Linked DNA regions of Homo sapiens. The protein of the gene in region 3 purifies or fractionates together with the protein of the main gene of each other region. This does not show direct contact. Each region holds a gene or a part of one and is shown on either strand. Other genes may lie near its edges.

Region 1 (4,243 bases), on a different chromosome or scaffold from region 3:
TCTGGCCGGGCATGGTGGCTCACGCCTGTAATCCCAGCACTTTGGGAGGCTGAGGCAGGCGGATCACCTGAGGTTGGGAGTTCGAGACCAGCCTGGCCAACATGGTGAAACCTCGTCTCTACAAAAAATAAAAAAATTAGCTGGGTGTGGTGGCGTGCACCTATAGTCCCAGCTACTCGGGAGGCTGAGGCATGAGAATCACTTGAACCGGGAGGCAGAGGTTGCAGTGAGCTGAGATTGGGCCACTGCACTCCAGCCTGGGCAATGGAGCTAGACTCTGTCTCAGGGAAAAAAAAAAAAAAAAGTTTGGGTTTTTAAAAATGTATGGTGAGCTAAGGAATAAGCTAATTGTTTTCTTAAATCAGAAGGGAAAAATGTTGTAAAATGCGTATTGCATTGGTTTTTAATCACATACCTGAAACTTATGTACCAGTGGGATTAATATTAGATGCTGAGATTTAACCTTTTTACTAAAATGGAAAGCTTAATATAGTTAGACTAGAAAACACCAAAACATGAGTACAGGGAAGTCACCAGGTGAAGATCAGTTTGGGTCCTCAAGTTTGTAAGTTGGGAATTTGGAATGTATTTTGCTGTGGAAACAGTGATGATTGAAATCTTGTGTTAGGTTGCAAAAGTCTGTTTAGAACTGGATAGAGCATTAAAAATGAAGCTTTTGCATTTAAAATTAAGAGGTACTATATTGACAGACAGACCAATTCCATTGATTAGGTTCAGGGCCACACCATTGTTCAGTGTTTTCATCCTCCAGGTAGTTCTTGGGGAGATGAAAAGAGCAAGGTGGCTGGGGGCAGTGGCTCACGCCTGTAATCCTAGCACTTTGGGAGGCTGAGGTGGGCGGATCACAAGGTCAAGAGACTGAGACCATCCTGGCCAACATGGTGAAATCCCACCTCTACTAAAACTACAAAAATTAGCCGGGCATGGTGGCACGCGCCTGTAGTCCCAGCTACTCAGGAGGCTGAGGCAGGAGAATCACTTGAACCCCGGAGGCGGAGGTTGCAGTGAGCTGATATCATGCCATTGCACTCCGGCCTGGCGACAGAGCGAGACTCTGTCTGAAAAAAAAAAAGGAAAAAGAGCAAGGTATAGTGACGCATCTCTGTAGTCCCAGCTACTCAGGAGGCTGAGGCGGGGGATTGCTTGGGAGCAAGCTCTTGTCTTAAGGGCAGTGATTTTATGTCAGGAATCTTTGTTCTGAGACTGGAGTAGGAAGTGAAGAGTGACTCAAAGAGATAAGCACAGCTTGAATTTCTTCCAGATGTGCTTTCTGTTTTTCCTACCCTTAAATCTGTTCTTGCTACTTATGGAAACAAATCTTCAGGATCTAGAGCACAGACATCAGCTTGTGTTGGCAGGAAGGTGTGTAAATGTAATAGCCTGGAGAACTCCCCTCATCCCCACTTGTTTTAGGAGTGGAGTGGGGCATATTATGGACCAAGGCTTGTCTACAATTACTCCAGCCTCTTGCCTCACAATTTTGTCTCCTTGCCTCCACTCTTAATCTCACCAGCTGGGATCTTCACTTTTTCTCTCTTATCTTGTTGGGACTCATATGTTGTTTACCTTGTTCCCAGATGGGGAAACAGCCCATTCTGGAGTTGGAAGGGCACTGAACTAACTCAGAGGGCAAGTTCCTCTACTTTGCAATTTTAACTGGTTCAGACCAGATGGCTTTCAAGTTATAGAAGTTCTTGGGAACACAGTGGCCAGAGGAAGCACATGTCTTCCGTCTTTAGGGTGTCCAACCTTGTTCTCTCACCCATGATTTGAGTGGAGATACTCCTGTATTTGTTTCACAAATAGTGAGCTATGTGTTCATATTTAAAAGTGTTAGCAATTTCTAGAATTGAGTTTATAGGCATTCAGTTTAAATTTACAAAGCAAATGGTTCCCATAATGTTTTGTTTTTGTGAGTCTTCCTATAGGACCCACTCCTCAGCAGTGAACATAATGAGATCCTTTCACTACAGTGTTGTAATAATAATGTGTTGCTTCTAGATCAGGCTGATATATGAGTGGCATGAGGACAGTGTCCCAGGTCACTACATTCTGATGTTACTGTGCTTCAATGTGTTCTATTTAAACTTAAAGGTGCATTTTTCTTTGGGAGGCCGAGGCAGGTGGATCACCTGAGGTCAGGAGTTTGAGACCAGCCTGGCCAACATGGTGAAACCCCGTCTCTACTAAAAATGCAAAAATTAGGCCGAGCACAGTGGCTCATGCCTGTAATCTCAGCACTTTGGGAGGCTGAGGCAGGCGAATAACGAGGTCAGTAGTTCGAGACCAGCCTGGCCAAGAGAACAGCCTGGCCAATATGGTGAAACCCCATCTCTACTAAAAATACAAAAATTAGCCAGGCACATGTAATCCCAGCTGCTTGGGAGGCTGAGATCACTTGAACCCAGGAGTTGCCTAGGCTGGTCTTGAACTCGTGGGCTTGAGTGATCCACCTGCCTCTGCCTTTCAAAGTGCTGGGATTACAGGCCTGAGCCACTGTGTCTGGCCTATTTTCTTTTTACAGACTCTCTGGTTTTTGTTGTTTTTTTTTTAGACGGAGTCTTGCTCTGTTGCCCAGGCTGGAGTGCAGTGGTGCTATCTCAGCCCACTGCAATCTCCACCTCCTGGGTTCAAGCGATTCTCCTGCCTCAGCCTCCTGAGTAGCTGGGACTACAGGCGCACGCCACCACCAAATTTTGACGTTGTAAATAATTGCATTTTGGATAACTGTGATTTTGAAATAATTCCTTAATTTTTTGTAGAAGTCAGTTTTCTGATTCAGCAAAATGGATAGTAATATAGGACGTTTCAATGGTGAGGGAGAAAGATGGTTGGATTGGGTGTTAACCCTAGAATTATGACCTTGGGCAAGTCACCTTTTCTTCTCTGCTCCCCGTATACAAGCGGAATGGACTTGGCTGTACCCAGTGAATCTTTAAGCCCAGCTAATTTTTGTATTTTTAGTAGACGGGGTTTCACCACGTTGGCCAGGATGGTTTCTATCTCTTCACCTTGTGATCCACCCGCCTTGGCCTCCCAAAGTGCTGGGATTACAGGCGTGAGCCACCACGCCAAGCCCTATTTTCTTTTTAGAGACACAGGGTCTTACTCTGTTGCCCAGCCTGTAGTGCTGTGCTGACAATACAGCTCACTGCAGCCTCAACCTCCTGGGCTCAAGTGATCCTCCCGCCTCAACCTCCCAAGTAGCTGGAACTACAGGCATGTGCCACTACACCTGGCTAATTTTTTTTTTTTTTTTTTGGTATTGTAGAGACTGGGTTTCTCCATATTGCCCAGGGTTGGCCTCTGACTCCTGAGCAAAAGCAGTCCTCCTGTCTCAGCCTCCCAAAGTCCTGGGATTATAGTGTAATTGTTTTTAATGTTGGCTATTTGCAGAAAAATAAAACACTACATAGAATTTTTTTTTTTTTTTGAGATGGAGTCTCGCTCTGTTGCCCAGGCAGGAGTGCAGTGGTGCAAACTCGGCTCACTGCAAGCTCCGCCTCCCAGGTTCACGCCATTCTCCTGCCTCAGCCTCTCGAGTAGTTGGGACTACAGGTGCCTGCCACCACGCCTGGGTAATTTTTTTTATTTTTAGTAGAGACGGGGTTTCACTGTGTTAGCCAGGATGGTCTCGATCTCCTGACCTCGTGATCCACCCGCCTCGACCTCACAAAGTGCTGGGATTACAGGCATGAGCCACTGTGCCCAGCCTACATAGTAATTAAAAGCTAAGGCTATAGAATTTGACTGGAGAGTTGGACACAATGGCTTGTGCCTGTAGTCTTAGCTGCTTCTGAGCCTGAGGCAGGAGGATTGTTTGAGGTCAGGAGCTTGAGACCAACCTGGGCAACACGAGACCGTTTTTAAAAAAATAAAATAAATTGGCCAGGCGTGATGGCTCATGCCTATAATCCCAGCACTTTGGGAGGCCGAGGTGGGTGGATCACCTGAGGTCGGGAGTTCGAGACCAGCCTGACTAACATGGAGAAACCGCATCTCTACTAAAAATACAAAATTAGTCAGGTATGGTGGTACATGTCTGTAAGCTCAGCTACTTGGGAGGCTGAGGCAGGAGAATCGCTTGAACCCAGGAGGTGGAGGTTGCAGTGAGCTGAGATCGCGTCATTGCACTCCAGCCTGGGCAACAAGAGTGAAACTCTGTCTCAAAACATAAAAAATAAAATAATAATAATAATAAAATACATTTAAAAATAAAAAG
Region 2 (4,243 bases), on a different chromosome or scaffold from region 3:
TGAAATGTTGGTTTAAAATCCTTTTAGATCTTCCCCAATTTTTTCTGATCATCTTCAAGAACAAAGTCCAGTGTTTCCTCTCTGATTCTTGCTAGTAACTTAGCTCACAAGATGCCAGCTGCAGAAGGAACGCTCTCTCGGGCTCACGCCTCCCAGGAATAATGAACACAATGTAGCCCGGGCCCAGCTGCAGGGCCAGCTCACGGGACCCTCCGCCTTCACACAGTAGTCACTCTTTTTTCCTAATAGCTCTTATAACTTTGGGTTTGGGGAGGGAAAGAGGCAGGAGGAAGCAAAGGAAAGGGGGAGTTGAAAATGGGTTATGGCGAGCACCACTGAGACCCTAGCTCATCTCAGATTTCCCATTTTCTGCTGATCTGTATTCTCCGTGGGTCCTGACGGGATTGCCTTGCTAGGCTATTCATGTTTCGGGCAGCTGGGTCTTTGTGTGTTCTCCTCTATTGCTGCCACTTTTTTTTTTTTTTCTGGAGTAGAGTTATTTAACTGTACAACCCACTGCAGTGCATTAGGACTCTTGTTGGAGCTGTTTGGAGTATCAGACGCTGTGTGTGATTTTGCTGCAGCAATGATGGCTTGTCACACCTTTCTCCTCCTATCTAGCAAGATGGAATCCTAGGTGGCTTCAGCTTGTTAGCAAACATTTATTGAATTAGTAGTCATTGAAAACCTACTGTGTACATGGTATTGTGGAAAAAGGAATAAAAATAGGTATTGTGGGGGATGCAACCTATAGCCAAGTAGAAGGAATAAGACAAGTGCCCAAATAAATAAATCACAAGTACTTCTGAAACTTGTGTGAGTATCAGAATCCCCTGGCAAGCAGACTCCTGGACCTTCTTCCCAGAAATTTTGACTCAGGCACTCAGCTTAGTGGTGGGGAACAGGAGCCTGCACTTTAAATTGTACCATGTAATTGACATGAAGGCAAACCGTGTTTGGAGGTTGAAGTTCTGAGCTGCAGAGTAATGTGACAAGAGCAACCTGAGTGACATGAACAGACCCGTACCCTGGGAGGTGGGGAGTGGGATGGAAAATGGGATTTGGTGGATTTGCTATGGCAGTCCAGAAAGCTGACTTCTAAGGAAGAACTGGGCTCTGGAATTACTGGATCAGATGTGAGCACTGTGTGTGCCACCTTATCCTCCAGCAGGAGCTGCCCTCCTTTCATTGAGACTTGCAGGGCCATTCACTGATGTCCTCAAAGCCTTCACAAAATAGTGATAATAATGATGACCATAGTAATAAAAAAAAATAGCTGGGCGCGGTGGCTCACGCCTGTAATCCCAGCACTTTGGGAGGCCGAGGCGGGCGGATCACGAGGTCAGGAGATCTAGACCATCCTGGCTAACACGTTGAAAACCCATCTCTACTAAAAATACAAAAAATTAGCCGGGCGTGGTGGTGGGCACCTGTCGTCGCAGCTACTCGGGAGGTTGAGGCAGGAGAATGGCATGAACCCGGGAGGTGGAGCTTGCAGTGAGCCGAGATCGTGCCACTGCACTCCAGCCTGGGTGACAGAGCGAGACTCCGTCTCAGAAAAAAAAAAAAAAAGAAATAGAAGTCTTAATAACACAGAACTGACAATAACACAGAACTGACATTAAAGAACAGGTGTTAATTAATGCATTAAGCACTCATCTATGCACTTTTCATGGCATAGAGCCATTTCATCCTCATGGCAACTCAACGGTTTAAGTGCCAGGTGTAGCCCCATTTCACAGATGAACTAGTTGAGGCATAGAGAAGTTCATCTGACTGTCCCAGGGTCCCTCGTTAGTAACTAGCAGAGCCTGGATTTGAACTGCAGCATTCTGACTCCACAGCCTGTGCTCCCCCCCACCGGATTCCACTGCCATTGGGTGGGTTTTGTGTCTATCCACAGGTGCCTCTTGAAACAGGTGGGGCAGTTGTGTCATGTGATTTTGAGCAAGTTGTTTCTTTTCTTCAGGCTTCTGCACCTTTCATAGGTCAGTATCAGGATCTCATGGACTATACAAAATTAAAAAAAAAATGTAAGGGCTAGTTGATTTGGCAGGTGAGTTGTTACACACTCCTTAGTGGATTCTGAGTTCCGTGCCTACCATCCCATCCTGCTCTCTTTCATCCAGACATCCAAGGCTGGAGGATTTACCTTGTTTAATTGGATTGGGATGTTATCTTTTCTTACAGAAACCAGAAAGCATAAGGAAAGTACTAAAAATATCATATGATTTTACCCCAGATATACCACGCAGATTCTCAAATTTGGTTTTCTTAAAAAAAAAAAAAAGGCACTCTACAATGAAAAATCATATGCCTTATAAACATTATATGTGTAGATATATAACCAACACAAAATGCCCACCGAGTTCCTATATGGCCGTGTGGATGCTGTACAATACCCGTTCCACAGTGCTTATACTGTTAAAGCAAAATAGCAGCAATATTGTAACAAACAAACTGACACATAACTGGGGATTTAGCACATAACATATGTCTTTTATTTAAAATGTTTTATAAAGTTTGTAATTGGTGCTAATTTCTGAGCATGAGGATTTCTCTGAGTTACAAAAGGGAAGTAACCCAGAAGAGAAATACCAAGGGGAGGTGTGTGTATAGGAACAGGAAAAGCAGGATCATTAGCAGTTGTTGACATGGGTCTCCTGTTTGGGACTGAATCTGTCTGCCTTGATTGGGAGAGTACATCGCTGTCTTTCCACAACATCCTTTTCGTATGGCTGGTGGGGTCAGCGTCTGAGGTCAGCCCTGAGGGTTGGCTTCAGGGGGTTGCTTCTCCTGGCCCCTGAGGCAACCTTGGATGTCCGAGGTGAACAGGGCTAATTTAGCATGACCTCTTGTCTTTTCTTTTCTTTACTTCTTTCTTTCTCTCTCTCTCTCCTTTTTTTTTTTTTTTGAGTCTCACTCTGTTTCCCAGGCTGGAGTGCAGTGGTGTGATGTCAGCTCACTGCAACCTTTCCACCTCCCAGGTTCAAGCGATTCTCCTGCTTCAGCCTCCTGAGTAGCTTAAATTGCAGGCATCCGCCACCAGGCCCGCCTAATTTTTATAATTTTAGTAGGAGTTTTCACCTTGTTGGCCAGGCTGGTCTCGCACTCCTGACCTCAAGTGATCCACCCGCCTCGGCCTCCCAAAGTGCTGAGATTATAGACCTGAGCCACCACCCAGCCAGAATGAGATATTTCTTTGTGCTCCCCTTCCTTTCTGTTCCCTCCCAGCCTAGATTGAAGGTGTCCATGTCTTGATTCTGCAGCCTATCCGGCAGCGCTTGTTCCTTTGTCCTTTGCCGAGAGTCCCACCAGCCCCTCACCTAGGCCTGTGCTCACCATGTGCTTGGCCCCATGTACCCAAATCTTGTCTCCTCTTGAGTGAGGCACTTGGCCTGGCTTGATGTGAAGCCCAGTCTAAAGCCGCTACGGTCATCTTCCCATTTATGAGGGTAACTGTCAAACAAACCAGTTTCCAAGAAGGAGTTAATGATCTGTAAACCATAACAATTTTTATATTGCCTTTTTTGAGATTCCTTGCCTTCAGGTATAACAGTAGTAGTCCCTTAGCTCTCAGGAAGGAAGAGATTGATTACAGTTTCATAGAAGGGAGGGGAGATGTTTCTGAGCTGAAGACTTTGCAGGTAACCCTTAAATACTATCAGGGGGTGCTTGTATAAAACAGCCAGTCTTAGAAATGAATTCCAGTCATCCAGCTTATCTCATGATAAGGACTCTTGATTTGAATGTAAGTGTATTTGAAATTAGCATCACATGTATCTGATTTCTACACCTAAATCTTTGGGTTCCGTTGATCAATTATGTATTTAACTTGAAATACAGTCATGTTTTCTCATTTTAGACAAAGGGCCATTTTTTACTTCTTAACACAAATGAAAATATTAGTTTTATTATGTGACCACCCTCATCACATGCATCTCTACAGCTCTTTCTTGGTGTTGGCCATTTGGGGCATTTCTTGAATCCTATGCCAATTATACAGACTTTCTTTTGCAAAGTAAGTTTCTGACTTTAATACCAAGACAGAATACAAATAATATTCTATAAAATTTACATAGAATCTAATATAATATATATATATATATATTAGATTCAAGCCTGTGGTTTCCATTGATATTTTCATCTAAATTCAGAGTCATTGATATTTATTTTCTCTTTATTCTTTCTTACACTTTCCTGTAAACAAATCAAAACATTCACTTCTGCTTGTCTCCTCAAA
Region 3 (4,243 bases):
TGCCTGAGGCTGGTAGCTCTGCCCTTCGGGAGATTCTACAAAGTGCCCCACTTGCATATTTATCACCAGGCTGGAAGGACAATTGCAACGTTGTTTTGGGAGCCTCTGCAGCTAGTTTGCCCCTCTGTCCCCCAATTGCCCAGATTCCCCTGGAGAGAAAGTGACAGATTCTCATCCAGTCTCTTAACAAATATTTTAGGCAAACTCTTCTGCCTCAGGCACACAGGGCCGTTGGAATCCTGGATTAAAGGAAGACGTAAACCAATCTTATTTCCTAGATTAGTTGCCTGTGTGCTGGGGGAAGGGGGGCGGGAGGCACAGTTCACTCCTGAACCGTTAAGAGTCTTCTTTCCATAGTTTCCAGGGGAATTTTTATTTACTGGGGATGTTTAGGTTCCCTCTTTCTGCCTCTACCCCCAAAAAGGAAACATTTTGGTGTTAATATGCTCCAAGCCTCCAGAATTATTATCAGCCATGGCATTGGCAGTTTTCAAATGACTGACCAAATTGCCTGTGACTTAGCACGTTGTATAATTATAAAGTTCTTTCCAAGGCATGCTGAACTCACAATTTCTCTAAGAATTAGTTTCTTTTCTTTTCTTTTCTTTTCTTTCTTTTTTTTTTTTTTTTGAGATGGAGTTTCGCTGTTGTTGCCCAGGCTGGAGTGCAATGGCTGGATCTTAGCTGAGTGCAATGGCTGGATCTTAGCTCACTGCAACCTCTGCCTCCCGGGTTCAAGTGATTCTCCTGCCTCAGCCTTCCGAGCAGCTGGGATTACAGGCATACGCCACCATCGCCGGCTAATTTTGTAATTTTAGTAGAGACAGGGTTTCTCCATGTTGGTCAGCCTGGTCTTGAACTCCCGACCTCAGGTGATCCGCCTGCCTCAGCCTCCCAAAGTGCTGGGATTACAGGCGTGAGCCACCGCATCCAGCCAAGAATTAGTTTCTTAGGCAGTGGGCTCCCAGGACCACAAGAAGGGCAGGTTTGAGCTATTGCCTGGCACAGAGAAGCAACACTCTGCCCGTCTAACACCTGGGGTGTGCAAGGCAGCAGGAGGTAAAAATGCTCCCACCCTGGTGTTCCTTCCAGAATCATCTGGCAGTAGCGGTTAATCATATAAGCTCTGGCTTTGTCACTTCTTAGCTGTGGACCTTGAGCAAGTGGCTCACCCCTCTGAGCCTCGGTTTCCTTATCTGTAAGATGATAATGATACCTACTTGATAGCATCGTGAGGATAAATGAGTGGAGGGTAGAACATGGTATGTGCCCAATAACCATAGATAGTATTCAGGTTAATAGGGAGACACAAACATTATTAACTCTGCTGCAGGACAGTGAATGTGAAACCAGAATTCCAAACAAAGACGTGACCGATTTGAGTGGGGAAAGTGTCCTGATGTGGATTTGAAGGCTGGGGAGAAGGGAGGCGGGTGGGCCTGAGGGCAGTGTGGGCTGAGTCCCGCAGCTGGAGCATAGAAAGGATGAAGCTCTGGTGGCTGAAGATAGGAAACAGGGCTTGCTGGGGTCAGGGAGAGAGTTGGCGGTAAAGAGCTGGAAATGTAACCAGGACAGGGTGAGATGGTGAAGGGGCCAAGCCAAGAAATATGGGTGCTCCTGCTGGGCAGAGGAGAAGCTCTGGATGATGTAAGAAGGAAAACCTCAATCGGGTTCCTCTTTTTTTTTTTTTTTTTTGAGACAGAGTCTCTCTCTGTCGCCTGGAGCTGGAGTACAGTTGCGCAATCTCAGCTCACTGCAAACTCTGCCTCCCAGGTTCAAGTGATTCTCCTGCCTCAGCCTCCCAAGTAGCTGGGATTACAGGCACCTACCACAAAGCCTGGCTGATTTTTGTATTTTTAATAGAGACGAAGTTTCGCCATGTTGTCCAGGCTGGTCTTGAACTCCTGACCTCAGGTGATCTGCCCACCTTGGCCTCCCAAAGTGCTGGGATTACAGGTGTGAGCCACCGCGCCCTGCCATTTGGGTCCCTCTTAACGGCTGTGTTCATGGATCATTATCTCTTCTGAGCCTCAGTTCCTTGATCTGTAAAGTGGAGGACTCAAAGAATCAGCCTCCTAGAAGAGTTGCATAGATTAAATGAGATAGTGGGTGTAAAGTGTTTAGCTTTCTGTGCATGTGTAAACTGCCCAAGAGGAAGTTAGCTGACAGTGACATACAGCAAGTTTTAATGCCCAACATTTTGTTGGCTGTAAGGACATGGGATTCACTAACTTGATCGTGTTGATGGGTGGATCTGGAAAAGGAGTCCGAGGTGCAGATTAGGAAATGTGGCTGGCCCTTCCCAGCCTACCTGCCTTTTGACGGTGTGCCTCAGGGCAGATTGTGAAATTGTCTCTTTACTACTGAGAATTCTGTAATTTGCCAAACAAATAAGGGTGAGAAGATGATGTACATTCCAGAGAGTGTGCATGGCAGGTCCCTTTTGTGCTGGATCCATCTGCAGGTCTTCAGCTGCGGGGTAGAGAAACCCAGGAAATACTAATCACCATTGTCCTTTGGAGGCTTATTAGAAAGTAAGTAACTCTGAAGTTGGCTGATAGTATTCATACGTGATTCTCTGGCTGGTAGGACCCAGGTCCAAGTATGGAGTACCAAGTGAATTTGTCCTCTCACCCTTTCCTATTCTGTTCTTTCTTTTTGTCCTCTCCCATGGGTTCTTCAAAATAAATTAAGTTTAGATTCTTTCAAAAGTATGCTTGGCCTTTTACCCGGCTCTCTATCGAGTCTTGTAGTGGTGCAGATGTGTGTCTACGGAGTAGTCCCCATACCCCCATCACTTTGTATTATTTACAATCTCAAAGGCATAGTCATACGTATCTGCCACCCAGCCCCAACAACCATTAACCCATGGCCAGTCCTGCCCAGCCACACTCCCACCCCTTGCCCCATGCATGATTCTGAAGCAAATCTAGGACATCATACCATTTCAACCATAAATAGTTCAGAATGTGCGTTTAGTGGATAAAGACCAAAATTCATGATCACACCCACATTACCAATTGTGTTCACATTACTAATTGTCTCATAAATTAATACTTTTCCCCTCCAGTTTGCTTAATCAGGTCCACATAATGTCCACACATTGTAATTGATTGGCATGTCTTTTGAGCCTCTTTTAATTTCATACATTTTCCCTCCATCAAGTTAATTGTTGAAGAAATGGGTGATTTGTTTTGTAGAGTCCCCAACAGTCTGGATTTTGCTGAGCGCATCACCATGTGCCTAATGTTTCTCAGTCCCCTAGGTTTTCTCTAAACGGATAGTTGGATCTGCAGCTGCAGCATCCAGTATCACATGTGACTATCACAGCCATAGTCAATTAAGAATTAACAATTAGACCAGGCGCCATAGCTCATGCCTGTAATCCCAGCACTTTGGGAGGCCGAGGCGGGCGGATCACCTGAGGTCAGGAGTTCAAGACCAGCCTGGCCAACATGTTGAAACCCCGACTCTATTAAAAAAAAATACAAAAAAAATTAGTAGGGCTTGGTGGCATGCACCTGTAATTCAGGCTACTCAGGATGCTGAGGCAGGAGAATCGCTTGAACCCAGGAGGTGGAGATTGCAGTGAGCCAAGATTGCACCACTGCACTCCAGCCTGGACAACAGAGCGAGACCCTGTCTCAAAATAACAGTTAAGTTCTTCAGTCCTACTAGCGACATTTCAAATGCTAGTAGCCATGTGTGACCAGAGGCTAATGTACTGGACAGTACAGAATATAATTTTTCTGTCACCACAAAAAGTTCTATTGGATAATGCAACTCTCCCTGCTTGGTCAGCTCTATTTTATTTCAGCTAGAATATGTCACACTGTGGGGCATCTGTCTTCATCAGAGGCACTGAATATTTGGTTATCTCTCTTTTTCTGATGTTAGCAGCTGTTGATGCTCAGGACCTAAATATTTTGGCTTATTAGGTGTTCTAAAACAGCAATAATCTAATTCTGTCCTCTGTTTATTAACTGATGTATTTCTATAGAGATACACTTTGCCTCATCTACTGCTTGGTTTTCCAGTGGCACAGTTCATTTATGAAAGGCAGAATAATGCTGGATTCGCTTTATTTACCTTTATTTGTAAATGAAGATAATCAGTTGTTAACCAGAATTCTCCATTGATGGCTAATTAGTTCTTTCTTTTCTTTCTCTTTATTTATTTTTCCTTTTGAGACAGGGCCTCACTATGTTGCCCAGGCTGGTCTCAAACTCCTGGGCTGAAACGA
Region 4 (2,382 bases), on a different chromosome or scaffold from region 3:
CTGTACTCATGGTAAGCGCATTATGTTGCAGGAGCAACCCCTATTTAGCTTTTTCCTCGTAACTTCAGGATGTTAGAAATTCTCATCTCTCACTTTTGGCATAGGGCCAGCTCTATGTGGTAGGTGGATCAAATGGCCACTCAGATGACCTGAGTTGTGGAGAGATGTATGATTCAAACATAGATGACTGGATTCCTGTTCCAGAATTGAGAACTAACCGTTGTAATGCAGGTAATAATAGTTTTCTCCTGAGATATCCAGTATTTAAATATGATAATTAAATTATCAATATGTAACTTTATTTTATACTTACATAGGAGTGTGTGCTCTGAATGGAAAGTTATACATCGTTGGTGGCTCTGATCCATATGGTCAAAAAGGACTGAAAAATTGTGATGTATTTGATCCTGTAACAAAGTTGTGGACAAGCTGTGCCCCTCTTAACATTCGTAAGTTGATTTTTTTTCCTTTTTTTTTTTAAAGACCTTCAAATCAACAGTATGTGTAGTATACACTTAGAGTCTGGGAGATGTAGCAATAATCTTGACTTGACTTTTCTTGTAGGGAGACACCAGTCTGCAGTCTGTGAGCTTGGTGGTTATTTGTACATAATCGGAGGTGCAGAATCTTGGAATTGTCTGAACACAGTAGAACGATACAATCCTGAAAATAATACCTGGACTTTAATTGCACCCATGAATGTGGCTAGGCGAGGAGCTGGAGTGGCTGTTCTTAATGGTGAGTGTTGGGATTTGGAGAGGTGAAGAGTAGATAGTGGCAAGACTTTGTTCTAAAACTCTGAGAGAAAAGGCCAATGACTATAGTTGTACAGTTAAGAATTCAGAAGCAGTCATCTCTTTTGATGCAATGGAGATTAGGGTGATTTGTCCTTTAGAAATATATTTTCTAATCAAAGACTTATAATACTTGATATATAACTTAATTCACCAGTCTTTTGATGGGTGCACTGAGTGAATTTCCAAGTCATTTTCTTCTATAAAACATATCCTTAATGCATCATCTTGAATTTTGAGTTTCCCCTTCTTTACAGCCAGAATTTAAAGAATCTGATCTGCAAAACAAAGGCAAATCCCTAGTCTTTTCCAACTGTCTACTCCATACCTAATTGGAAATACAACCTTTAGACTATTTTAACAAGTTTCCAAAGTATTAAACTTTTTAAATGTAGACATAGCTTTCTTTCCACCTCCATTTTATTGACTTTTAATGTCTAATTATATAATCATAATTTAAAAGTTAGCATTGTTTTTGGTACCAGGCTGAACCTTAGCAGGCTTATGGCTCAACTGGTGAAGGCTTAAGTGTAGACACAGCCTGTTGGCCTAGAGCATTGTCAGCGTGCTTTACAGATACATAGAATGCAAGCTGGTTAAGTGATGGTCAAATGAAAAAATAATGAATTTGAGAATCAGTAATAAAATTTTTTCTAAGCTACGGAGTATTTATTGCTAACATTTTATCTATTTGAAAATAATCATAACTCTGTTTCCAGAAGAAATTTCTGTACCACAATCATTTTATTTTTTTAATTGAGACATGGTCTCACTGTGTTGCCCAGGCTGGTCTCGAACCCCTGGGCTCATGCAGTCCTCCCACCTCAGGCTCCCATAGTATTGGGATTATAGGCATGAGCCACCGCATCTGGCCCCAAAATCATTTTATACAGTTGGAAAGCCCTAAGATATTTTTCTGCTTTCCTATAATCTCTTCTGAGTCTTAATTCTGTACATTGGGCTGATATAAAGTCCAGTGCACAGAACTATTCTGGTTTGCTACTTAGTAGCTGCATCTGTAGGATAATTGTCCAGCTTCTTCCTGCTTTTCTTCTTCTCTGAAATAATAATAGTAACTACCACAGAGTTGGTGAAAATTGTACTTATTTAGATGCTGCTACTGCTTCCTCTCCCTCCCCCTTTTAAGTTGCCTAAGTTCCACGTGGGAATGGTTTTTTTATTGATTTGATTCCCAGCTCTTAGAGAGTATTTGTCATATTAGGCATTTAATAAATTCTTTTTGACAAAATGAACAGGCATTTCTATTTTTAAAACCACTGATTTTTAAGCAAAAGACAGATTTAGGGGAGTTTTACCTTATTACACTTTAATCTCTGGATTTACCCCATCTCATTTCTCTTTTAGGAAAACTGTTTGTATGTGGTGGCTTTGATGGTTCTCATGCCATCAGTTGTGTGGAAATGTATGATCCAACTAGAAATGAATGGAAGATGATGGGAAATATGACTTCACCAAGGAGCAATGCTGGGATTGCAACTGTAGGGAACACCATTTATGCAGTGGGAGGATTCGATGGCAATGAATTTCTGAATACGGTGGAAGTCTATAACCTTGAGTCAAATGAATG
Region 5 (4,243 bases), on a different chromosome or scaffold from region 3:
GATCGAGACAGTCCTGGCTAACACGGTGAAACCCCATCTCTACTAAAAATACAAAAAATTAGCCAGGCGTGGTTACAGGCGCCTGTAGTCCCAGCTACTCGGGAGGCTGAGGCAGGAGAATGGCCTGAACCCGGGAAGCGGAGCTTGCAGTGAGCCGAGATCGCGCCACTGCACTCCAGCCTGGGTGACAGAGCGAGACTCCATCTCAAAAAAAAATAAATAAATAAACCTTAATTAAACTCTTCCTACTGATCCTGCCAAACACATCTCTGGGATTCACAGAAAAGCTATATAAGACTAGAGAAAGAAAATCAAGGTCACTCCTCAATACTCACCCTTTCTGCCAAGAGCACAGGCCAGTTCGCTACCAAGGAAGCCCCCACCGATAATCGTAATTGATTTGACTTCCCGTGAAATCTTCTCCAAGCTTCTAAAGTCTCCAATCTGCAGGATCACATCAGTTTAGTCCATTAATTTCCAAAAGGGGCATAGGATAATAATACTAGAAAGTAGTTTCTTCTAAATCTTTGGCAAAAGTAAATTTTCTCCTTGTATAAAGTGACTCAATTATAACTTCTATGTTATTAATGCAAATTTATTTCTTCATGGTAAAATTCCTTCTATAAACAGTGGTTCTCAATTGGTGGCAGTTTTGTCCCTATCTTCCCCAGGAGGACATCTGGCAATATCTGAAGACATTTTTGGTTGTCAGGGCAAGTAGGTGCTCCCAGCATTTAGTGTGCAGAGGCCAGGATGCTGCTAACATACTACAATGGCATAAGACAGCCCCCACTACAATTATCCAGCTCAAAATGCCAATACTGCAGAGGCTGACAAGCCTTGTTCTAGGAAGAACTTAAAAGACAGTACACAGCCTGGCCAACAGGGTAAAACGTCCCTACTAAAAATACAAAAAAAAAAAAAATTAGCCGGTCGTGGTGGCACATGCCTGTAATTCTAGCTACTTGGAAGGCTGAGGCACAAGAATCGCTTGAACCCGGGAGGCGGAGGTTGCAGTGAGCCAAGATCGCACCACCGCACTCCAGCCTGGGTGATAGAGCGAGATTCAGTCTCGAAAAAAAAAAAAAGACAGGACAAATCTTATCCCTGAAAAATGACAGCAGTTTTTATAAGCACAGTGTTAAGAAGCAGAACACCTCCTTGCTTTTTATTTAGGTACTCTTAACTTTTTTCTCAGAAGTCTCTACACAGCACTTGCAATGAAAAATGCCAAGAGGCTGTAAGGGGTTCCAATGAATCAAACACATCAGGAAAAAACAACTATGGAAGAGCAATCAGAAGGATCTATTGCAAGCAATACAAACACTCCATTTTTTCCCTAGGAGCTTAAAACCCTTGAGTGAGGTATCTGAGGTGCAGAGAGAGGAAGTGACTTGTTCAAGGCCAGATAACAAGTCTGGAGAAGAGCCATAAATAGAACTTGGATCTCCCAAGTCCCGGGTGGGCACTTGGGGACTGCAAGATTATACTACTTCTTCAAAAACAACACAAGGAAAACACTAAAGCAGACAATTACCTTTCTGAAAAGCGTTGTTCTACTCTTCACCTCTGCTCCAGCCCTATCAATGGCAGACAGACTTCTTGGAGTACCTCCTGGAAATAAGAGAAGGAAAACCCTTTAGCCCAACAAGCAGGAGCCAGCCCAAACAATACTCCCTCCACCACACAAAGGTGGAGCCCTCTTCACTTAGCACCATGGCGGCAACAACAGGATAGGATACCAAGGCTTTGTTTGCCTTCAGCTTGCCTCACAGCAGGCTTTCTGTCAGTTTCCTTTGAGAAGCAGATTTGAGAGTCTGTCTTCAAGGGGTACACCCTGCCCCTAGGTGGCCAAAAGGCCTTACTTTTGGCTTCCATGTTCTCTTCTAGTTTCTCATGAGGATTTGCCAGCTAGCATAGCTACATGGGTTTGATAAATTGCTTCTGTCTCCTCTCTTGGTTTCTGATTGCAACTGGCAATGAAGCCACAAACGACATCACTTTCAAGGCACAGGGCACAGGGTGAGGGTTAAGCAGGGAGAGAAAAAAGGGCAACTTCTTCATGCCTCTACCGGGAGAACAGCAAGGATCATCCAGAAGGGCTGGTGATCCAGGATGCTTTGACACAGCCAGCTTTTGTACCAAGAGAAGACACTCACTTCAGAGAGTCTGGGTTTCCATTTTCTTAAGTAGTAATGCCTTCCATAGAGAAGGCTGGACTCTAAAACTTGAATGAGCTGTATCAGGGAAGAAAGCCATCTCCAGAAATGCTCACCTGTTGCAATCAAGCACTTTTCATAGGTTATTTGAGAGCCATCATTAAGTTTCACCATGTTGTCTCTCACATCCAGCTGTACTACCTGGTACAGTCACACACATACACAAAAGAGGTAGAGATGAATTAGCATTGAAAAAGTTTTATTGAGATATAATTCACATCAAATTCACCATTTTAAAGTGTGGAATTCTGTGGATTTCAGTATATTCACAAGGTTGTGCCACCATCACCACTATCTGATTTCAGAACATTTCCATCACCACCCCAAAACTCCAGGTCAATAAGAAGTTGTCAGCCCAGGACAGGCACAGTGACTCATGCCTGTAATCCCAACACTTTGGGAGGCTGAGGCAGGCAGATCACTGAGGCCACGAGTTTGAGACCAGCCTGGCCAACATGGCGAAACCCCGTCTCTACTAAAAATACAAAAATTGGCCAGGTGTGGCGGCATATGCCTGTGGTCCCAGCTACTGGGGAGGCTGAGGCAGGAGAATCGCTTGAACCTGGGAGGCAGAGGTTGCAGTGAGCCGAGATCATGCCACTGCACTCCAGCCTGGGCAACAGAGCAAGATTCTGTCTCAAAAACAAAACAAAACAAAAAAACCCCAAAACCACAACAACAAAAACAAACAAAAACAAAAACAAAAAAAGTTGTCAGCCCAATAAGAAGAATGAGTTCTTGACCTAAAGCGATCCTTAAGAAACCATATCCAAGTAATCATGGGAACCACAGTTTCTGGTACCCAGTTTTTTTAGGCAGTCATATGTTGGAAATTGGCAATGAGAAGGCAGGCAACATTAGAGCAAGTCATGACAGTCCCAAAGCCCTGACCCATGTGTGGAAAAGGAGAATCGGAACAGCCTTTCTTATATGGCTGTTTGGAATTACTTATTATTACTTTATTAATAAGTCTCCTACATCTACAACATTTTTACAGAATGCTTTCTCCAACTTGTAGCCTTCACGGAAACTTGGCTCTCTCTTAAGGAGAGCTTACACATAGAGGCTGTTCGTTCCCCCACACTCCACATCACAAGGCCAGGAGGAGGTGTTGGCATTCTGCAAGCTTCTTGAGGTTACTGGTCTGCTGCTTCCAGATTCTTGTACTTTCATTCTCTTCTGAGGGACATCAGAGGAGTCCTATATTCCTACGAATCACTGTTTTGAGCCACCTCCTGGCTACTCCTCCTGATTCACTGAAGACCTTGGAACCTGGCTCATACTTTTCCTCATCTTGTTATCTCCTAAACCTCTCCTCCTACCTCAATTATTCTACTTGTTGGTCACAATTTTCCATCCCTTCAGCTTTCGCTCAGTCTGTCTCCTATGCTTGCTTTCAATTTTCTCTGTTTATTTGACTAGCTGCTCCATTCTAACTAATTTGGGCCAATGGTAGAACACCCAAACTGTTCTTTTGCCAGTACCTTTAATTCCCTTGCACCCTACTCCTTCTTATGGTTAAGAGCTTGAGCTTTGGAGTCAGAGAGAATAGGGCCCCAGTCTTTGCACCACTCTTTACTAGCTGAGACCATTCAATTAAGCACCTACTATGTATCAAGTTGAGACAGTGATCCTTGCTGCTTTCAGAGTTTAGTGGCCAAGACAATTTAACAAGCACTAACAATAATCAAGAGTGACAAATGTGATGTAAGTGGTAAGAACAGTGCAGGTAGCGCTGGGAACATATGACATGTGCAATCTAGTCAGGTTGGGTTGGGTAAAGCTTTCTAGAGGCAATGACATGAACTGAGATCTGATGGATAAGCAGCTTCTTTAGCCTCCTTTGATTTGTCCTTGGTAAGCTCCCTCTTCAATCCAATCCCGCTACTCAACCCTCACGGTGTTCGCTCTCAGATAACCATCTTATGTTCTATTGTATTGCAAAAACAAATGAAGCCATTAGATGTGATCTTCCATAGCTTCCCATGAGGCATGAGGGCTCCCCACCACCCCCGTCCAGCCTA
Region 6 (4,104 bases), on a different chromosome or scaffold from region 3:
TTTTAGTAGAGACAGGGTTTCACCGTGTTAGCCAGGATGAACTTGCACTGATCTCTTTACCAGGCTTCCCCTTAACCCTCTGCGCAGAAATTCGGGGTTTTTCTTTGTGTTTGAGACAAGAGTCTCCCTCGGTCTCCCAGACTGGAGTGCACTGGCGCAATCACGGCTCACTGCAGCCTCAACTTCCAGGGCACAAGCCATCCTTTTGCCCAGCCTCCTGTGTAGCTGGGACTACTCGGGAGTCCCATCTACTCCCGTGCGCTGCCATCACGCCCAGCTAATCTTTGTATTTTTTGTAGAGACAGCACCTCACTATGTTGCCCAGGCTGGTCTCCAACTCTTACGCTCAAGCGATCCTCCCCCTCGGCCTCTCAAAGGCGTAAGCCACCGCGGCCAGCCTTTTTTGGAACTTAAAAAAAAAGCCATAATGTGTCATTAGGAACCTTGGTGACATGACAGCAAAACCAAAATGTACTTATTTATTAGGTGTCACTTGGAAGCGCAATTTTCAACAACGCAAAACTATAAAAAAAACCCAACGTCGGCCTCCACAGGCTAATCAGTCTCCGAGGCACTGACGGCGGGAGAGATGAAAACGCGAAGGCCAGAGGAGAAAAAGAGGAAGGATTTGCAGAGAGAACGGTAACGTGGTGGACATGAATACACCCAAGAAACCCGGATCCCGCGCGGCACATTGGGACGAAGCGCGCTGGCGGGCGGCCAGCAACTCTGGGCCAGGGGAAGGAGGCGGACACCCAGCCCGAGAGCCGAAATCGGCCCCAGTGGACGCTTTCATCTTCGCGGCCCAGAAACACTCCTATTTTTCACCGCACAATGCAAACATGGTGGACCAGAAAATCCGCCCCGCGTTTGCCGGTCGAACCACGTGGGGCCCTTTCCGCGCCGTCGATGCCTAGCCAGGGCGGGGCCCTCACAGAATTTGTTCACGGTGGGGGCAGATCACCGGAGAACTTCTCCAGAGCGCTACGGCACGGTTCCTTCTACACACTGGCAGAACTGCCATTGCCATCGCCCCGAGGCGGCAGAATGGTACGCTCTGAAAACTGGATGGTTCTAACGTAAGCAAGAAAAACGGTGCGCGCTGCAGCTCTTTAACTGGAACAGCCTCTGCTCGGTCTACCTCGCCCCCAACAGCTGCGCAACCCACCACCGCGCAGGCGCGCTGCGTGCCGCCAGCGCCATGCGAAACCGACTTTCCCGTCTCGCGAGAGTGGGGCCGGCCGCCTTCGCAGTTCTCGCTCCGCCCCCCACTTCTTGCTCGTTCCCTCCCATCCCCCCAAGCCAGTAGCTGTGCTGCGCAGCTCCCTAAGCGGTTGTCACCGCTGGAGACGGTTGGGAGAACCGTTGTGGCGAGCGCTACACGAGGCAAACGACTTCTCCCTTCTTTGAACTGGACCCCGCGAGCACCAGAGTCGGCGTAACTATCGCCTGACAGGGTATCTGAAGTAAAAGGGGGTAGGTTGGGCTGGTGGTTTCGAGAGCGGAGTCGGGAGAAGGACGAAAGGCCGGGAGGGGCTGGGTTGGGGGGTAGTGGGGTGGTCGCCGCTCGGAGGCCGCCGCTTGGAAGCGGCGGGGCTGCGCCTCCCCGACCATCTCCCACTTCAGGGAGGGCGGCTTGCCGATGGGAGGACTTGCTCAGGTGGAATTCAGTGGACGACGCCGAGGCCCGAAGTAGGGGACATCCAGCATTTTCCCCTTTCCCTGCTGGCTTGGCCTCCGCCATTTTGGGTACAGTGGCGCGGCCACCTCGGCTTCCCGCCCTTCCCCGCTCTTTTTACTTTTTTGTTCCCCAGCTTCCGAAAACTGATCTAGAAGGCCAGGGGAGGGGGTGGTCAAAGCTCCCTGGAAGGGATGAGGGTGGGTAGTGAAGCGAGCAGGGAAAGGCCGGGCAGTTGGGTGGAGGGAGGATCGGGTTTGCCGGGCGCGCTCCCGATGGAAATGGCGCCGGATGGGCCTGGCCTCCCACCGCGGCCTCCCTTCCTCCGCAGTCTCGGCAGGGCTACCTGGGCTGACGGGACTGCGAGTGACTTCTGACGCAGATTCCCAAGATGAGAGAGGCTGGAGCTGGGGGAGGAAAGCCAATGGCGACGAAGGTGCTCAACTCCCAAATCCAGGACAAAGGAGGCAGACGGCCTCCTTTGTAATTCTGCCGCCCGGTGGCGAAGGGTTTTAAGCCAGGCTTGGCTGCTGACGGGAGGGGGAAGGGGCGTACTCTCCCTAGCTTTCTGGTCTCTAGGGCAGCTAGATAAACGGAAAGTCTCCTGGGAGGAATAAAGGACGCTTAGCCGGCCCTTATATTCCAGATTTGGAACTTCGAAAAGAGTACGTACTGATTTTCCAAAGGGTTTTTTTTTTTTCATGTTTAAACGTTAATAAGGACTTCGGGGATGATTTTGTGAGCAGAAAAGTGGGTGATTTATCAAATAGGAATGTGAAATGGGCATGTTTCAAGTAGGTCGTCTGGGCCCAGTGAACTATAATTGTTGCTTTTTGAACTTTCGGGGTGGGGGTGGGTGATGTAGCAATTGTTTTGCGTAGTTTGGCGTATATATGTTAGAATTTGTTTTTAAGTTTTACTTTTGGGAAACAGTTAAAACAACCCAGTGATGGTAGATGTGTGTGTATTGAAATTGAGCTTTCGATGTTAAATCTTCCAAGAGTTGTATTTTGTGCAGTTTTTTTTTCCGATGGCATTAAGGCTCTAGAAGTAAAATACTTCAAAATACGGTTATGGTTTATTTTCTTTTGGTAGCTAGGCATGTTTTTTCTTTAGTGTAGGAGTATAGTACACTGTAATCGTATTTTAAACAAGGGAATAAGCCTACTAAACATAAAAACAAATTGTAAACCCAGTCACGTGGTGGTGGTGTGATTCGGATGAGGGTCCTGAGAACTGGATCCGTAATTTTCATTGAAGACAGTACAAAAGGGAGGAGAAAGGCCTGAGAGTAAGAATTTCTGATAATTCATGTAAAACTTTATAAGAATATTGTTACCTACTTTTCCAGCTCTAAAAACAAAAACTTATTATTATTGAAGATGTTCAGTGATGCTTTCTCAAGATTGCCAAGGAAAAGTTTACGAAAATCTTACCTTGAAACAGTAGGTTTGAGTGACCCTTTGAAGAGATAGTCCAGACTGTCCTGTAAAGTTATATATGATATAACAAATAGCTTTACTAATTGGATTGGACTACACATCTTTTTTCTGTCCTCTTTTCATTTGTGCCGTTATCTGGAAATCCATCTAATTGCCTTTTTAAAATAATGTTATCTTTGATTTCCTTGTTTTGGTAAACTGACTGAACTGCAGTAGATAAAAACCTGGTTCTAGTGAACTAACATTTTAGAGACCTTACCTCCTTAAGCTATTAGGGGTGTGTCTAGTTTTTTGTTTTTGTAAAGAGCAAGCCCATTGGGAAGGAATGATGTAAATTTTCTGTTAAACTTAAATCATCAGCACTTTTTCCAAAAAATAAAATTCATTCTCATTTCTTGACCACTGGGCTACCATTTAGAAAGTTATTTATTGATGTAAAATCCTTTATGTATTACTTCAGAAGATAGGCTATGCCTCCGTGTTAAGAGGATTCTCTATTTCATTTGTTCTTTAGTGGATTTTTTTTCTTTAACGACTTTGGTATATAATTCACATACCGTAAACTTCACCAATTTTAAATGTACAGTTTAGTGGATTTTAGTACATTCACAGCGTTGTGTGACCGTCACTACAATTTAATTTTAGAACATTTTTGTCACTCCAAAAAGATATCCATACCCTTTACTGGTCATTCCCATTGCTGGCATCCTCCCTCCCCTCAAGCCTCAGACAATCATGAATAGAAATGGAATCATGCAATATGTAGTCTTTTGTGACTGGCTTGTTTCACTTGGTGTAATGTTTAGAAAATTATACTTAAAGTCTCATAAAACTTGACCAAAGCTATCCTCATATTTTAACTGTGGTATCTTTTATTGGTACTAGCACCTAGAATTCTTAAAGCAGAGTAGTGATTAGCCATGACATTGTTGCAAAGAAAGGTTGAGGTGGATTATCCTGAATAATTAGTAAACTGTTTTAAGT
Region 7 (4,861 bases), on a different chromosome or scaffold from region 3:
CTCTGTAAGGGAAAATGAGAGCTGATTATTTTGCTGGGAAGATATCAAACACATGGAATATGTCAGCAGCATGACATACACTATCAAATTACTTTTAACCTCACAGAAACATGACACAGACTTTTTTCCGTGGTATTAAGCACCTCCTCTTCCTTGCTGTATTTTAGGACAACGTAACTTCAACTTCCCTTTCTGCAAACACACTACTTGTTCAGCAAAGACGGTTCTAACTCTAACCCGCCTCCTCCTCATTCAAATCCCCTCCACTTTCCTAACTGCACAGCTGTTCTGTTTGTTTCTTAAATGGAGTATTAAATTAGTCTAAAACTAAATGTAACTTAGGCAGTATCTGTTCTCCAGTTCTCCACGACCAAGTTCTCTCTTGAAAACACCGGTGTGGTGAGGGTTAAGATCCCAACTCTGCTACCAGCTGCTTGGGCTTGGGCAAGTCACCCTAGCTCTCAGATGTCATCTGTAAATGATGACAATGCCAATGTGGCACTGTTCTGAGAGTCAGACAGAACGTATGTGTGCTTCACATATGGTGCTCATGAAGTGCTATCATTATCTAAGGAAAACAGAAAACGAAGTTCAGAGTCTCTCTAAACGCATGACACCAGACCAACAGGGAGTTTCAAAAAATAGGTCTGAAGTAAATCAATTCTCCTGGTCTCAATACACTGAAAACAAACTATTAGGGGACTGACCGAACCCACCTTAGGAACCACCTTACGTCACCTTCTGTCTCTACTGCAAAACCCTCCCTTAATACTGTTCAAATACGCTGACAATCCAGATCCATATCCAATGGAACCAGCAATCATGCCTGTGTGCCAGCAATGTCAGGGAGGGAAGCCGATCTCTGATGAATTAGGACATCTTACCAGACAGACTTTGTTCAAAATTCAATTTTTTTTTAACCAAGTGCCATTATGTTTTAAACAGTCAATCCAGAGTTAAGATTGAAGGGCCTCAACCTCAGTGAAATCTAATGGACCATGAAGACTGACTAGCCACTGATTTATTATCAGGTAGCAATAAAGATGGGAAAGTCCAAATTTATCAGGAGAGGAAAGTGATTATATATATTTGCAAACTTACAGGTCTTGAGATTATTTAACTTGATTAGACAATAGCATATCTTTAGGAAGTCATCTAAAAATAAAGAAAGCTTATTTAAAAACTACCTCAGAATGGGCAAGCCCTGGGCCTCAACAATTAATATCCAATTATTCCACACAATTAAACTACAGACAAGCTATTAGGATATCCCTGAATCTAGAAAACATCTATAACTTCAAACATATAATAAGCTAAACATTTTTTAATTGGTAGAGATCTATATTTTATTCTTAGCTTAAATAATAATTAAAGTTAATATGAACCATCAGCTTCATTTTTCAGGAGTTGATCCTGTTCCCTGGAAGCTAAAACCCCACGTCTCCCTGAAAAGAAAACACAAGTAACCTAGATTAAATAATCAACTTTTCTGAATTAAAACCATGACCTTTATAGTATAGCCCAATAGATTGAAATGTGGTTGCTTATAGCAGAAATATAGGGAGATAGACTTTTACAAGACAGAAGTCATGCCACATGCAAATATGAAAAGGAGAAATTAATGATGCCCCGATCCTACATGTGTTAGTTCTTCACCCTAAACTCAGAAGAGTCTCTTGTTCCGATAGAGCTGGTCTATTCATTCGCCAAGATCATACCGTGAGTTCCTTAAGGATAATATCCAAATTTTACCCATGTTTAAGTCTCCAGAAACTGACCTATAGTTGACCCCCACTAAATGTTTCTGGAGTGACTATAACTGGTAGATTTTGGCTTAAAATTTTGCTAGAAATATAGCCTCCTCATCCAAACAACACAGGAGATTCTACCATGTGTGAAGAGGACATTTTACAAGATAGACTCCATCCTGGAAAAGAGAAACATTTTAAATAGCGTTTGAAAAAAGTGGCATTAAAAACATCTATGACAAACTTAGGGGTTTATCATTGAAAACATAAAGTCATGTTAACTTTGTATGGCACTGAAGAATGCCAAGATAACTAAAGAGTAGATTAAGCCAGATGCTGAGTCTTTAGGTTTTCAAAGTAAGAATTATCCTTCAAACGTCTGAAAACATTCCATTTAGTCTAAACTACAGCCAACTCACTGGAAATTAGTACGTGCCAAGGTGGCAATTAAAGCTGAAATTAAATGTTTTGCTTTTAACCTAACGATTGATTAGGGAAGGCATGCAACCTTAAGGAAAAAATCAAAACATCTTTTTCCTTATATCAGAATTGTGTCTTCAAGAACAGTCACCGACTTACAAATTTTCAACTTAGATGATGGGTTTATCGGGGTATTAAAGGCATTTTCGATTCATGATGGGTTTATCGGAACGCAATCCCATGGTAAATCCAGGAGCACCTGTATGTTAAGAGCGGATCACGTCTCTTGTGGTTAGATAGTTAATCCAGTAGTCTCCACCATACTTTTTCTCGTCATATCTCCTTACTGCCGGCCCAGCGGTCGCTTAAACAGGCAAGAGGCTGGCTAAGTGGATAAAACACCAACGCTTAGGACCCTAAGTTAGATAAGCGACTGAATACTGGCGAGGCTGGTACCAGAGCTTGCTCGACAGGACATTCACAGCCGAAAGTTGGAACAAACGTGTCCACGTCCAAAAGGCCCGGATGCTCCAGGCAACTTTCAGCGCGGCTCGAGGCGGCTTCCGGGAGTCGGCGACTCGGAGGCCCGGACGTCGGGCGATCAGCCAGTCCGGACCCCAAGGCCGGAGAAAGCTCGGCCGCGGCGCCCCGAAAAGAGACCCCATTCATTCTGCCCGCTCCAGTTTTCCGCCGCGCGGCCCACGAGGCGGCGGCTCCGGAGGGCGCGCAAGGGGCCGGAAGGGCCACCGCTCCTTCCCGCCGCGCGCCCCTCCCCCGCCACCGCCGCGCCGGCCCGCCTGGGCCTCCCCGGTCGCCCTCCCACCGCCTCAACCACCCTGCGCCCCGATCGCGCCCAACCCCCGGCGGGGGGCTCCCACTCACTTGTCTTTCTCGGTGCCGAAGATGGAGGCCAGATACTCCGCCATTTCCCACCCGCCGCCGCCGCTGCCGTCGACACTGCTGCCGACGCCGCCGACCCTGCCGACGCCCTCGGGAGACGTCACCCGGACGCGACGACGCTCTTCCCCGCCCCGACGTGGCAGCGCTACCCAGTCAGGCGAGGTGCTGCCTGCGCGTGGGCGGGACGCATGCGCGTAGGGAGCACGTAGTGCGCGTGGGAGGCTCCGCCTTTTCGGTCCTGGGAACCCGCGCCCCCTGCCGGTGCCCTCCCCGCCCGGCCCTAGCTCTCTCGCCTTCTCGCCCGCCCGGCGCTGGCCCTGCTGGATCCTGCGCGCCGGGGACTGGGGGCTGGCAGTGCAGACCGAACCCGGGGCCGAGGGGCTTCTCCACAGAGCCGCCTGGGGCTCGGTGGGGGGCGCTCAGCTCGACCCCAGCTAAGGGAGCACTAGGAAGTGCGGGCGTCCCCTTCCCTGCACCCTTGCGGGGCGGGAACCGTCGACCTAGAAGAAAAAAAAAGCTGAGGCAAACTTGATATAAGTAGAGAGGTTATTTGGGCCAAGTTTGAAGATTGCAACCCGGGAGCATAGCTTCAAGTTGCCCTGAACATAGGATTTGCAACAGTGACAAGTGGGTTTATAAAGCTTAAGAGGGGGGCAGTTCTTAAATAGCTCACCAAGAATTTACATGAAAATAACAAGCTATTAATTGGCTGTACGTTGTTCTTTATATCATAATTCCAGGAAAGGAAGTTCATGGGTGAAGGCAGCGGGTCCGGAGCAATAGTGCCTTTAAACAATTGCCAGGCATGGGTGGGGACCGCTGAAGCCGCATAGACCTGTCTCTCCGGGCCGGATTAACCTCGCACGCCTCACATAGCTCGGACGCTCTGTGTTGTTTTTCTCTTCTCACACCCCTCTCCGCTTTACCCTCCCTCAGCGCTTGCCAGGTGCGACCTCCCCGGGGCCCTGCACTCTTGCAGTTGCCTGGCCAAGGCCACCCACAGGTGGAGCTGGAAGGCCAGTGACCTGCCTCTGGGATACCCTTTCAGTCTCCTCATGTCACAAGGCTGGAACCATTCCGTTGGAAGGGTTCTATTCCTCTCCTGCGTTTTAACCCCATCAAGCAGCCATTTTCATCTGGTTTCCCACATTCATCAACTCACCTGCGATTTACCTAATTTCCAACGCAACTATCAACTCTGATTAGGTAGAAGTCAGAGAGACAGGGCCTATTTTACTTACCTCCTCCACAAGATGAGCCCCAGACTGTGGGGCAGGACCATGGGATCCTCTTAGCTCGGCTAGAGCTGAATGCTGAGCTCTAGTGTTTGGGCGGATTTGCGTGTTAGAATTGCATTTCTCTTGGCAACAGAGCATCTTCCTACCTGGGAAAGATGAGCAAACTGGAAACCTGTATTAGAAACAGTAGGGCCTCAGAGGTTTAAACCAAAAAGTATCTTGAGACAGGGCTCAATCAATTTAGAAGTTTATTTTGCCAAGGTTAAGGACAATGCCTGGGAGGAAAAAAAACACGGTATCACAGAAACAGTCTGTGGTCTGTGCCTTTCTCCAAAGATGACTTTGAGGGCTTCAGTATTTAAAGGGGAAAAGTGGGCTGGAGGGGAAAGCGGAACAGTGTGGTAATCCACACGTTGCAAGAGAAAAGAAGCAGGTTGGGAACAGTCGACTGTGTACAGCTCACTCCTCAGCAAATCAGCACTTTACATAAGAGAAGCGGATGTTGAACCTTCTATCTGTAGCCGTCTGCTTAGGAACGAAAGGAAAGGCAGCTGC

What was found.
Region 1: the proteins of OVOL2 (region 3) and TMED2 purify together in Homo sapiens (affinity purification with mass spectrometry, with the first as the bait; one large-scale study listed by BioGRID). This does not show direct contact.
Region 2: the proteins of OVOL2 (region 3) and PID1 purify together in Homo sapiens (affinity purification with mass spectrometry, with the first as the bait; one large-scale study listed by BioGRID). This does not show direct contact.
Region 4: the proteins of OVOL2 (region 3) and IVNS1ABP purify together in Homo sapiens (affinity purification with mass spectrometry, with the first as the bait; one large-scale study listed by BioGRID). This does not show direct contact.
Region 5: the proteins of OVOL2 (region 3) and AIFM1 purify together in Homo sapiens (affinity purification with mass spectrometry, with the first as the bait; one large-scale study listed by BioGRID). This does not show direct contact.
Region 6: the proteins of OVOL2 (region 3) and HNRNPH3 purify together in Homo sapiens (affinity purification with mass spectrometry, with the first as the bait; one large-scale study listed by BioGRID). This does not show direct contact.
Region 7: the proteins of OVOL2 (region 3) and U2AF1 purify together in Homo sapiens (affinity purification with mass spectrometry, with the first as the bait; one large-scale study listed by BioGRID). This does not show direct contact.

The regions. Positions count from the first base shown.
Region 1 is NC_000012.12:123,590,699-123,594,941, forward strand, and holds part of TMED2 (transmembrane emp24 domain-containing protein 2 isoform 1 precursor), read left to right. Parts: intron 1-4,243. UniProt on the Homo sapiens protein: Involved in vesicular protein trafficking. Mainly functions in the early secretory pathway but also in post-Golgi membranes.
Region 2 is NC_000002.12:229,148,901-229,153,143, reverse strand, and holds part of PID1 (PTB-containing, cubilin and LRP1-interacting protein), read left to right. Parts: intron 1-4,243. UniProt on the Homo sapiens protein: Increases proliferation of preadipocytes without affecting adipocytic differentiation.
Region 3 is NC_000020.11:18,051,154-18,055,396, reverse strand, and holds part of OVOL2 (transcription factor Ovo-like 2), read left to right. Parts: intron 1-4,243. UniProt on the Homo sapiens protein: Zinc-finger transcription repressor factor. Plays a critical role in maintaining the identity of epithelial lineages by suppressing epithelial-to mesenchymal transition (EMT) mainly through the repression of ZEB1, an EMT inducer.
Region 4 is NC_000001.11:185,298,066-185,300,447, reverse strand, and holds part of IVNS1ABP (influenza virus NS1A-binding protein), read left to right. Parts: coding exon 1-11; intron 12-104; coding exon 105-231; intron 232-317; coding exon 318-449; intron 450-564; coding exon 565-738; intron 739-2,159; coding exon 2,160-2,382. UniProt on the Homo sapiens protein: Involved in many cell functions, including pre-mRNA splicing, the aryl hydrocarbon receptor (AHR) pathway, F-actin organization and protein ubiquitination.
Region 5 is NC_000023.11:130,138,258-130,142,500, forward strand, and holds part of AIFM1 (apoptosis-inducing factor 1, mitochondrial isoform AIF precursor), read right to left. Parts: intron 2,361-4,243; coding exon 2,276-2,360; intron 1,615-2,275; coding exon 1,538-1,614; intron 445-1,537; coding exon 336-444; intron 1-335. UniProt on the Homo sapiens protein: Functions both as NADH oxidoreductase and as regulator of apoptosis.
Region 6 is NC_000010.11:68,330,760-68,334,863, forward strand, and holds the start of HNRNPH3 (heterogeneous nuclear ribonucleoprotein H3), read left to right. Parts: upstream 1-1,304; 5' UTR 1,305-1,457; exon of another isoform or gene 1,458-1,476; intron 1,477-2,024; exon of another isoform or gene 2,025-2,343; intron 2,344-4,104.
Region 7 is NC_000021.9:43,104,401-43,109,261, forward strand, and holds the start of U2AF1 (splicing factor U2AF 35 kDa subunit), read right to left. Parts: upstream 3,171-4,861; 5' UTR 3,095-3,170; coding exon 3,051-3,094; intron 1,446-3,050; exon of another isoform or gene 1,386-1,445; intron 1,156-1,385; exon of another isoform or gene 1,102-1,155; intron 3-1,101; coding exon 1-2. UniProt on the Homo sapiens protein: Plays a critical role in both constitutive and enhancer-dependent splicing by mediating protein-protein interactions and protein-RNA interactions required for accurate 3'-splice site selection. Recruits U2 snRNP to the branch point.